3 linked regions of the Homo sapiens genome follow. The protein of the gene in region 3 purifies or fractionates together with the protein of the main gene of each other region. This does not show direct contact. Each region holds a gene or a part of one and is shown on either strand. Other genes may lie near its edges. The genes, in order: DPF2, BCL7A and ARID1A.

What was found.
Region 1: the proteins of ARID1A (region 3) and DPF2 purify together in Homo sapiens (affinity purification with mass spectrometry; 8 studies listed by BioGRID and IntAct, with this or other methods). This does not show direct contact.
Region 2: the proteins of ARID1A (region 3) and BCL7A purify together in Homo sapiens (affinity purification with mass spectrometry; 6 studies listed by BioGRID and IntAct, with this or other methods). This does not show direct contact.

The regions. Positions count from the first base shown.
Region 1 is NC_000011.10:65,336,740-65,340,390, reverse strand, and holds part of DPF2 (zinc finger protein ubi-d4), read right to left. Parts: intron 7-3,651; coding exon 1-6. UniProt on the Homo sapiens protein: Plays an active role in transcriptional regulation by binding modified histones H3 and H4. Is a negative regulator of myeloid differentiation of hematopoietic progenitor cells. Might also have a role in the development and maturation of lymphoid cells.
Region 2 is NC_000012.12:122,038,867-122,042,517, reverse strand, and holds part of BCL7A (B-cell CLL/lymphoma 7 protein family member A), read right to left. Parts: intron 1-3,651.
Region 3 is NC_000001.11:26,768,907-26,772,557, reverse strand, and holds part of ARID1A (AT-rich interactive domain-containing protein 1A), read right to left. Parts: intron 1,440-3,651; coding exon 1,232-1,439; intron 59-1,231; coding exon 1-58. UniProt on the Homo sapiens protein: Involved in transcriptional activation and repression of select genes by chromatin remodeling (alteration of DNA-nucleosome topology).

The sequences.
Region 1 (3,651 bases), on a different chromosome or scaffold from region 3:
CCAAGGCTGCAGGGAAGATAGAAATCAGGCGTGTATGTTGGAGCGGGGGGCATAGGGTGCTGAGCTATTCCTCTCCCCTGCCATCTGCTTCTCTAGAAGGCTCAAGGGACTGGGTGGCTGTCTCTTCCGTTCTATTTGCCTCCACTTCTGCCTCATGGGACACGAAGCCCCTTTTCTAGGCCATCATGAGGAATTACTTTACAAATAAATTACCATCAGGAACACATGATTTCATCATATGTCTAATCAGACTTAAGTTTAACCCCCAAAGAGGTGAAAGAATGTTCACTCCACGTGTCTCACAAGCCCACCCCTGTGCTAGTTAAGATGCTATTTCTCTTAACCCTTATGAGGCTAAGAAGCAGATGATAGTCCCTCCTAAGTTCCTCCTTATTCCCTCTTTCCTAGAATCACCTCCCAAATAAACTACATGCTCCCACATCCTTGCCCCAAGGTCTGCTCCAGAGGGAAAGAGTTCAAAGTCTAGGGGACTTATTAAAATGTATTTAGCAAACTATGGTAAATCCATACAATGAAATTCTACTTAGCCATAAGAAGGAAGCTCTTCACATACTGATATTAAACAATTTCAAGTTAACTAGGGACAAAAAGCAAAGCAAGGTACACTGCTGAGAAGCGTCAAATAAAACTATCATTTATGTAACAAAATGGAAAAGAAACTGCAGGTCAGCGGGGAGAAAAAGTGGGTGACTAGGCCACTTCCTTCCATATGCCTTTTTATATCTTTTGAATTTTGAACTAGGTTTTTAATCAACTAATTAATTTTACATTTATGGAAGATGTCTACAAGTACCTGAAGTTCCTTGAAGCTTTTATTGAGCACCATCACTCATAAGAAACTTGTTTGCTCTAAGGCCCATCTTAGGGTTCTTCTCCATTCTCACAAAATAAAATTATATAGGAAAAAATCTTCTTGGTCTCAAAAGACTCAATTTGAAATCTGAATCAAGGGTAAATCTTTAAGTGGAAAACTGGAAAACTGCACAGTGCCAGGAGTTATCTGGTTCTAAGAAGCGTGTATATAGAACCTATCTTGTTCTCATCTTGCAGGGTTTAACAAGGACTTTGGTAATGGAGGTTAACAAACTCGATCTTATATTCAATCAATCTTGTTTTTTTTTTTTTTTAAGAGACAAGGTCTCACTATGTTGCCCAAGCTGGACACAAACTCCTGGCTCAAGTGATCCTCCTGCCTTAGCCTCCCAAGTATCTGGGAATAGAGGCATGTGTCACAGTACCTGGCGTCAATCAATCTTAAACCAAGGGCAGAATTGATTTATTTCTCATAGTATCCCTAATACTCATGACGATGTCTGAGATACAGTCAGACTTGACTTGAGAGTAAAAAGACCTGGCTTGCCTGCAAGTCACACGAACATGGACACTTAGTCAGCCCAGGTGGACCTTGGTTACTCTTCTATAGATTGAGGAGGTTGGACCAAATGAGCTTTGACATATCAGGATTTTACAAGAAACAGCCTGGGGATGAGACAGCAAACAGATTAAGTCTCTGTGGTTTCTGTCCGTAACTCGGGCTACACCAACAAACCCTGCTCTAGAATGTGACAGGGTCCTTCAGTGAGCAGCCACAATAGACCACTGCATAACTTAGCATGTGCCCAGCAAGTAAAAAAGACACATACGACACACAGAGACGGCAATGCCACAAATATAGCCTGGCGTGATTCAATGAGCTGTAATGACTGTAATCTGAGGTAGGCACGAATCTCACGTTGGAGAGCAGAATGGAGAAGGCAGCCTTGCCTCTGTGGGCTCGCCTTTAGGAGGCAGCCACGTCTTCACCACACAGAATAAAATTGGATAAACAAGGTTGAGTGCGGCAGCTCCTTTGTTTCTGCTGATGGGAATTGATACGGACACTGGAAGTCAAATGGAAGGCAGGGCCAGGCTGGCGAGTGCTGCAAAGTCAGAGCAAGGAGGCTGGAAACAGTTTTGCGGGGAATGAATGAGAGATGTTCTGTCAGGGCTCTTGTGAGCTACATAAGGCAGGCAAACAGTCTTGGGGGTAAAAGGGCTGGGAAGGAAACACTGAAGTGTGGGGGGAGAATCTCATGAAGAGAGAACAAGACAGCATGACAGTGAGCTCTTAAGAACTTAAGGGAGGCCGGGCACAGTAGCTCATGCTTATAATCCCAGCACTTTGGGAGGCCAAGGCTGGTGGATCTCTTGAGACCAAGAGTTAGAGACCAGCTTGGGCAACATAGTGAGATCCCATCTCTACAAAACGTTAAAAAATAAAAATAAAAAAGGCCTGGCGCAGTGGCTCACGCCTGTAATCCCAGCACTTTGGGAGACTGAGGTGGACGGATCACCTGAGGTCAGGAGTTCGAGACCAGCCTCAACATGGAGAAACCCTGTCTCTACTAAAAATACAAAATTAGCCGGGCGTGGTGGTACATGACCATAATCCCAGCTACGGGGGAGGCTGAGGCAGAAGAATTGCTTGAACCTGGGAGGCGGAGGTTGCGGTGAGCCGAGATTGCGCCATTGCACTCCAGCCTGGGCAACAAGAGCGAAACTCTGTCTCAAAAAAAATAAAATTAAAAAAAACAAAACAAACAAACAAAAAAACCATCAGCTAGGCTTAGTGATGCATGCCTGTGGTTCCACGTAGCCCCTGGGGCGGATGAGGTAGGGGAATCATTTGAGCCTAGGAAGTTGAGGGTGCAGTAAACCAAGGTTATACCACTGCACTTCAGCCTGGGGGACAGAGGGAGGCTCTGTCTCTTAAAACAAAAAAAAGCAATAACAAAAACTTAAGGCTCCGATACCAAGAAATGTCAAGTTAACATTAACATTGTTCTCTCTCTCTCTCTCTCTCTCTCTCTCTCTCTCTCTCTCTCTATATATATATATATATATATATATATATATTTTTTTTTTTTTTTTTTTTTTTGAGATAGAGTCTTGCTTTGCCGCCCAGGTTAGAATGCAGTGGTGCAATCTCGGCTCACTGCAGCTTCTGCCTACTGCAGCTTCTGCCTCCCGGGTTCCAACGATTCTCTTGCCTCAGGCTCCCGAGTGGCATGCGCCACCACGCCCAGCTAATTTTTGTATTCTTAGTAGAGACAGGGTTTCACCATGTTGGCCAAGCTGGTCTCGAACTCCTGACCTCATGATCCGCCCACCTCGGCCTTCCAAAGTTCTGGGATTACAGGTGTAAGCCACCGCGCCCTGCCTCTAGATTTTGCCTAGAAAGTTTCAAAACCAATCAGCAGCTACAGCTATACTATTATTTTACTTTCCTAGTAAGAACGCTTAAAGACTTTCTCTCTTTTTTTGAGACGGAGTCTCGCTCTGTCGCCTGGGCTGGAGTGCAGTGGTGTGATCTCTCCTGGGTTCAAGCGATTCTTCTGCCTCAGCCTCCTGAGTAGCTGGGACTACAGGTGCACGCCACCATGCCCAGCTAATTTTTGTATTTTTACTAGAGACGGGTTTCACCACCTTGGCCAGGCTGGTCTCAAACTCCTGACCTTGTGATCCGCCCGCCTCAGCCTCCCAAAGTGCTGGGATTACAGGCATGAGCCACCGTGCCCGGCTTCTTTTTTTTTTTTTTTTTTTTTGAGATGGAGTCTTGCTGTTGCCAGGCTGGAGTGCAGTGGTGCGATC
Region 2 (3,651 bases), on a different chromosome or scaffold from region 3:
ATACCTGGCTGAGTTTTGTATTTTTTAGTAGAGACGGGTTTCTCCATGTTGGCCAGCCTGGTCTCGAACTCTTGGCCTCAGGTGATCTGCCCACCTCAGCCTACCAAAGTGCTGGGATTACAGGTGTGAGCCATCACACCCGGCCACTAGCTGTGTATTTTTTATATGTGAATTATATTTTAATTACAAAAATCTAACACATTGAAAAAATAGATGAGACAAATGTGGCACCGTGTTCATGAAAATCAAGGTGGAGTGTACAGGGGGATCGTATTCCTCTCTCTACTGTTCTTGACAACAAAACCCTTCACAATACAAAGAAGAAAGAGAAGGGGTAATTGGGCAATGGCATTTACAGTTGGGCTGGGGGCAGAGCTGGGGCCCGGGCTGCACCTCCCCTTGTCCTGCACCCCCTTCTCAGGCACAGAGTCACTCTATTTATTTTTTTGAGATGGAGTCTGTCACCCAGGCTGGAGTGCGGTGGCGCGATCTCGGCTCACTATAATCTCCACCTCCTGGTTCAAGCGATTCTCATGCCTCAGCCTCCCAGGTAGCTGGGATTACAGGCATGCACCAACATGCCCAGTTAACTTTTGTTTTTATTATTTTTTAGTAGAGACGGGGTTTCGCCATGTTGGTCAGGCTTGCTCTTGAACTCCTGACCTCAGGTGATCTGCCCGCTTCAACCTCCCAAAGTGCTGGGATTACAGGAGTAAGCCACCACACCCAGCCATTTATGTATTTTTTATTTTTAGAGACAGGGTCTTGCTCTGTTGCCCAGGCTGGAGTACAGCAGCACAATCATAGCTCACTGCAGCCTCGAACTCCTAGGCTCAAGCCATCCTCCTGCCTCTGCCTCCTGAGTAGCTGGGGCCACAGGCATGTGCCACTGCATCTGGCTAATTTTTAAGTTTTTTGTAGAGATGGGGTCTCACTATGTTGCCCAGGCTGTCTTGGACCCCTGGGCTCAAGTGATCCTCCTGTCTTGGCCTCCCAAAGCACTGAGATCATAGGCCTGAGCCACTGTGCCCAACCTAGGAGAGTCGTTTTAAACAGCAGAGACCCAAGTGGAGGTTTCAAAACCAAAGCAGCCTTTCTGGGGGCCATGCTGCACCCGGGGCGATGGCCACTTTTGTAAACATGAGAAAGAGACAGAGACACCCCAACAGACCTGGGCACCTGCCACCATGCCAGGCACTGGGCAGAAGCATTTATGGACACCTCGTGGAATCCTCCCCACAACCCGTTGGAAAGGCACCGTTACCACCTTCACTTTCCGGAGGGGGAAACTGAGGCTGGGAGCAGCAGAGCCACTTGCCGGACCCATCTGCCCAACTCCCAGCCCCACGCCCCTCCTCTACCTCAACCTGCCGAGGAAGCACCAGGCAGTCAGGCGGCCCCACACGGGTAACCTGGATCTGATTTTAACTGTACTCTGGGGTGCTCGTTACACAAAAGCATCCTCTTGTGAATTCTGGGACTTAAAAAAAAAAAAGAAGGATGTGTGCTCCCCGATTTCTCCCTTGAGAAAAACTAGACTTCCTTCCTATGGCAAGCACACGCGCAAGAGGCTGGCCCCGTAGGTTCCTGAGGCTCTGTTAATGAATGACAATGAGCACTAATGTTTAACGTCTGGTCTAGCCTGGTAGCCTGGTAACAGCGTGACCCTGATACTTGGGCTAACTTCAGCTGAGTCTTGTGGACTAAAGGGCCCGGGGCACCGCCCTCTCCTTCATCCCCTGCTGTACCCATCCTCCCACTTGAAGCCTTCCAGAAAACTTGCCCGGCCCACACCTTTCCCTGACCTTCCCATTTACACACTCTGCAGTCTGACTGGCTTTCGGCTGCACGTGCACTAAAATGAAAATCAGAAAGTCAACAGGGCACCTGTGTCTGGGGACCTGGTTTGTTCAGCATCCTAGATTTTTCTGGAGAGTTTATCCAGGTCACAAATCTGGATCTTTTGGTTTTTTTTTTTTTTTTTTGGAGACACGGCCTCACTCTCTTGCCCAGGCTGGAGTGCAGTGGTGCAATCTTGGCTCACTGCAACCTCCCCTTCCCGATTCAAGGGATTTTCCTGCCTCAGCCTCCCGAGTAGCTGGGATTACAGGTGCCCACCACCATGCCCGGCTAATTTTTGTATTTTTAGTAGAGATGGGGTTTCACCATTGTTTGGCCAGGCTGCTCTCCAACTCCTGACCTTAAACGATCCTCACAACTTGGCCTCCCAAAGTCCTAGGATTATGGGTGTGAGCCACCACGGCCAGCCACAAACCTGGATTCTGTCTTCAAAGAACCAACCTCAAATGCCATCAATGGCACTGGAAGTTATGAACTTGCTAACCATGCATGTTACTTCACCTCACTGGGCCTTAGTTTCTCCATCTGTAAAATGCGGTTGGTTATTAGACTCAAATGAGGCAATGATGTAACGGGCTTAGCACAATACTTGGCACATTGTGACGGTTTCATAAATGTGAGCTGTTAACATGCCAAGGTTTTTAAAATTTTTATTATAGGCTGGGCACAGTGGATCATGCCTATACTCCCAGCACTTTGGGAGGTTGAGGGAGGAGGATTGCTTGAACTCAGGAGTTTGGAAACAGCCTGGGCAACATAGCAAGACCCTGTCTCTATTTTTGAATACAGTAAAATAATTTTTTTTTTTTATGGAGTCTTGCTCTGTCGCCCAGGCTGGAATGCAGTGGCATGATCTCAGCTCACTGCAACCTTTGCCTCCAGGTTCAAGTGATTCTCCTGCCTCAGCCTCCCAAGTAGCTGGGATTACAGGCGTGTGCCACCACACCCAATAATTTTTGTATTTTTAGTAGAGATGGGATTTTACCATAGAGACCAGGCTGGTCTCCAACTCCTGACTTCAAATGATCCTCCCATCTCGGCCTCCTAAAGTGCTGGGATGACAGGCATGAGCCACCACACCTGGCCCAAAATAAAATATTTACTATAATTATATTATATATTATATTATATAATATATATAATATATATATTATATATATATATATATTTAAGAGATGGGGTCTTGCTCTGTTGCCCAGAGTGGAATGCAGTGGTGCAATTACTGTTCACTGCAGCCTCCAACTCCCAGGTTCAAATGATCCTCAGCCTCCAGAGTAGCTGTGACTATAGGTGCGCATCACCACAACCTGCTAATTTAAATTTATTATTATTATTATTTTTTTTTTTAATCTATTTTTTTTTAGACTGAGTCTTGCTCTGTCGCCCAGGCTGTAGTGCAGTGGCGTGATCTTGGCTCACTGAAAGCTCCACCTCCCAGGTTCACGCCATTCTCTTGCCTCAGCCTCCCGAGTAGCTGGGACTACAGGCACCAGCCACCACGCCTGGCTAATTTTTTTGTATTTTTAGTAGAGATGGGGTTTCACCGTGTTAGCCAGGATGGTCTCGATCTCCCAACCTCATGATCTGCCCGCCTTGGCCTCCCAGAATGCTGGGACTATAGATACGAACCACCTATTGTTTTTTTTGTAGAGATGAGGTCTCCCTGTGTTGCCCAGGCTGGTCTCAAACTCCTGGGCTCAAGTGATCCTCCTAACTCGGCCTCCCAAAGTGCTGGGATTACAGGTGTGAGCCACTGTGCTTGGTCCCATGCCAAGGTTTTTAAGAGATTAT
Region 3 (3,651 bases):
GCCATGGAACTGCTGGTTGACTGGGGAGTCTGGGGCCCCTGCATAGATCCTGATCCCGCTGTGGACAGAGATACAAGTTGAGTAGTTTGCTTGGCATGACAGTGTTTAACTCTCACACAAACACACGAACGACCCAGAATCTCTTTGGGAAAGTTCTTCCTAAGGCCTTTAAAGCCTGATCACCCTTCTTAGCAGAGGATCTACAAGGCCAGGTCATAAAGACGGGAATCTGAGGGTTTTGTAGCTCTTTGTTTTTGTTTTACGTGTAGAAAAGAGGAGTGATGTGGCCATGACATCACCATGCTGGTGATTCCCTGAGTCATTGCCAGCTTCCCTGGCTATTTCTCTTCACTCCGCCAAAGGACCTTGTCTAACCTACTAAACCCTGTAATGCTGGTGCATGAGCTCCAGTCAGAGCCTCCCAAGTCCTGGGTGGGAAGGGGGTCCCAAATCTGGGATGCATTTTAGGAGTCTAGGAGCTCCTGTTCTAAAGCATCCAGCATGGTGTCACTCCTCAACTTCAAATGTTCTTCTAAGCTGATGAGTACAAAACTACTAGTAATTAATGTTTCCAATAGTTACCATTCCCAGCAGTAGATATCCCACTGCTGAGGCCTCCCCAGCTGATGAGTCATCTCAGGCACTCATTACACCCTCAGAGGTCAACACCAGGGCACATGTGTTTACACCCACCTTCCAGGCACCCTGGCCTTCTTCCCTCTCTAGGCTCACCCTAGGCCTCAGCCTCCTCTCAGAAAGGAGGGTGAGCAGAGCCACTCCCATCAGGGAGTTCCATTCATAACCCTTCCCCACTCCCTCCTTCCCATTCATTACCATCTCAGCTCCCTGGGGAATTCAGGGCTCTAGTCTGAGCTGCATTCTAAGGTGCTGACATCAATAGGCCAAAGCTCCCAGATGGCCCTGCCTTGCTGCCATTTATAAGTTCCACCGACTCCTCTTGTGCCCCTCCCATTCACCAGTTTACAAACATTTGGCAAGTTGTCAGCTGCACAACAAAAATTAAAACTTAAGAGCTGCCGTAGAGTACCTCCCAAGGGAGTTTCCACTGCCCACTCTCTAGTCAGCCAACCTGTTAAGCCCTGTGGTAGGGCAAGGCAGAGCACAGATCCTTGGCATATCCTGTTGGATAAGCCTCTTATTCATATCCTGAATAAGAGGCCAGGGCAACAGGCCCTCTCAGCCTTGGTGGGGCCGCTGACCCCATCCTTACCAGGAGAGGGAGGCTGGATCTTGGGCTGGGACTTCTTGGAATCAGCAGCTGCAAAGATGTCTGGGGGAGGGTCTTCTCCCCGTTCAATCTTGCATTCAAAGGCATAGAGACACTGGATATACTGCTTTTTCAAGGAGCTGGCAGCACTGCTTGATGTGCCCACATTGAGGTTGGTTGCAAGTTCCCGCCATTTTTTGTTCTTGTTGACCTGTATAACCAAACCAAAGGAGTCGAGGTATATCTCCCGCCTGGTTTTCCTGCCCATAAGCCCCAAGCCCCATCAGGCTGTAAGGTATTCATCTTTGTAGAACCACAGTTCTTAGGTAATTGAAAAAGTTAATCTTGCTTGGTGGATAGTCCACAAGAAGTGTTAAATCTGCAGCTGGCTTCATTTTACCCTCAGGATGTTCCACTGCAACTATCAGACTGTGCTTATTCACAACAGGGCAAATTTCACATTACTACTGGAACAGAATTCAGAGTCCGGTTTTTTAGTACGCTGCTAAAAAGTGGTGTACAAATCATCTGGATATCTAAATCCTATTTTATTTATTTATTTTTGAGACAGAAAAAATAAATCTCGCTCTGTCGCCTAGGCTGGAGTGCAGTGGCGTGATCTTGGCTCGCTGTAACCTCTGCCTCCCGGGCTCAAGCGATTCTCTTATCTCAGCCTCCCGAGTAGCTGGGATTACAGGTGTGCACCACCACGCCTGGCTAATTTTTGTATTTTTAGTAGAGACGGGGTTTCACCATGTTGATCAGGCTGGTCTCAAACTCCTGGCGTCAAGTCATCTACCCGCCTCAGCCTCCCAAAGTGTTGGGATTACAGGCGTGAGCCACCGCGCCTGGCCCTAAATCCTATTTTAGATGCACTAATAAAAACTAACATTTTATAAAATGGAGACTCATGATAATATCAGTGACCACCCTGCTTGACTTGCTTTGTCAAACTTGGGATTTACTCATATTTTTTTCTTGGGGTGGTGGCTCCCTGCAAATTTGACATTCTTGTGCCACTGCTCCCCTACATATCTCATTGACAAATAACCACAGGTCCCTTTCCCTTACCAGTCACTGTCCTGATGGTCCGGGTGTTCAGGGTCTTATTTATTTAGAGACAGAGTCTCACTCTGTCACCCAGGCTCGAGTGTAGTGACGCCATTTCGGCTCACTGCAACCTCCGCCTCCCGTGTTCAAGTGATTCTCCTGCCTTAGCCTCCCAAGTAGTGGGACCACAGGTGCCTGTCACCACACCCCACTGATTTTTATATTTTTAGTAGAGACAAGGTTTGGCCATGTTGGCCAGGCTGGTCTCAAACTCCTGACCTCAGATGATCCGCCCGTCTCGGCCTCCCAAAGTGCTGGGATTACAGGTGTGAGCCACTGCGCCTGGCCCGGGGCCTTATTATGACTTTTGTACCTCCCGAGCAGCCAACCTACAGTTCTGCCTCCTTCCCTCAGCTTCAGGGCACACTGACCAAGCCCATTCCCCAGATGCTCCCTACAATTAGTCTTTCTGCTCTAGCTGGACAGGTCTCCTTCTTCATGTATTCTTATGCTTATTCATCTACCATATGGTAAGCCTGTTCCCCCAAGGCCTGGGAACAAGGGTTTTCAAGTCCCTATACACAAAGGAAGTTCAATAGGTTGTAATGTCTGCTGATATGATACCTATGATACTAGAAAGAAGAGTTTAAAGAGGCACAGAGGGGGACAACCTAGAGGGGCAGAGGTGACTAGGAATACTTCTTAGAGTGGGTAACACCTGAGCTAAGTCTTCATGGTTGGAGATGGCCTTGGTGGGAAATATCTAGACTCTCTCCCATCTCCGTGGCATCTAGGCCAGTCTACTGGATTGGCCACTCTTCCACCTAAACCCTACTAATCCTTTAGATAAGCTCAAGATTCAGCTTTGCTTTCTTGGAGCCTTCACAAACTAACTTATAAATAGCACTCTTTTGCCCCTGAATTATCACTGCCTTTATAAAAGTTCAGTTACAATCACGGCATTTTAAAGGTTTGCATCCTTTTCCAATCTGGAAGACAGGCTCAGGCATTAGAATTCTCTCTGTACCTCATCCTAGGTTCAGTGAACCCTGAAGCCCACCCAATCAGAAGTGAGCGAAACCTAACCCAATGCTCCCTTTCCCTATAGACAGGGAAGGCTTGACTATGAGATCTGAGTATCAGGGAGAATGGCAGGAATATGCATGGAGTCACCTCAAAAGCCTTCCGTGGCTTTGCTTCTCATGCCAGTTATGTGGCAGTATGCACGTGTCTTATTTTGTTTTGTTTTCCTTTGTGGGGGAGGGGAATAAAGCCTGAAGGGAGAAGGAATTCATAACTGACTGTTGGCTGGCTTCATTCCAACCACTTTCTTTTCTGCTGGTGACAGCTGTTTTCCTCTTCTGATTTAGAAG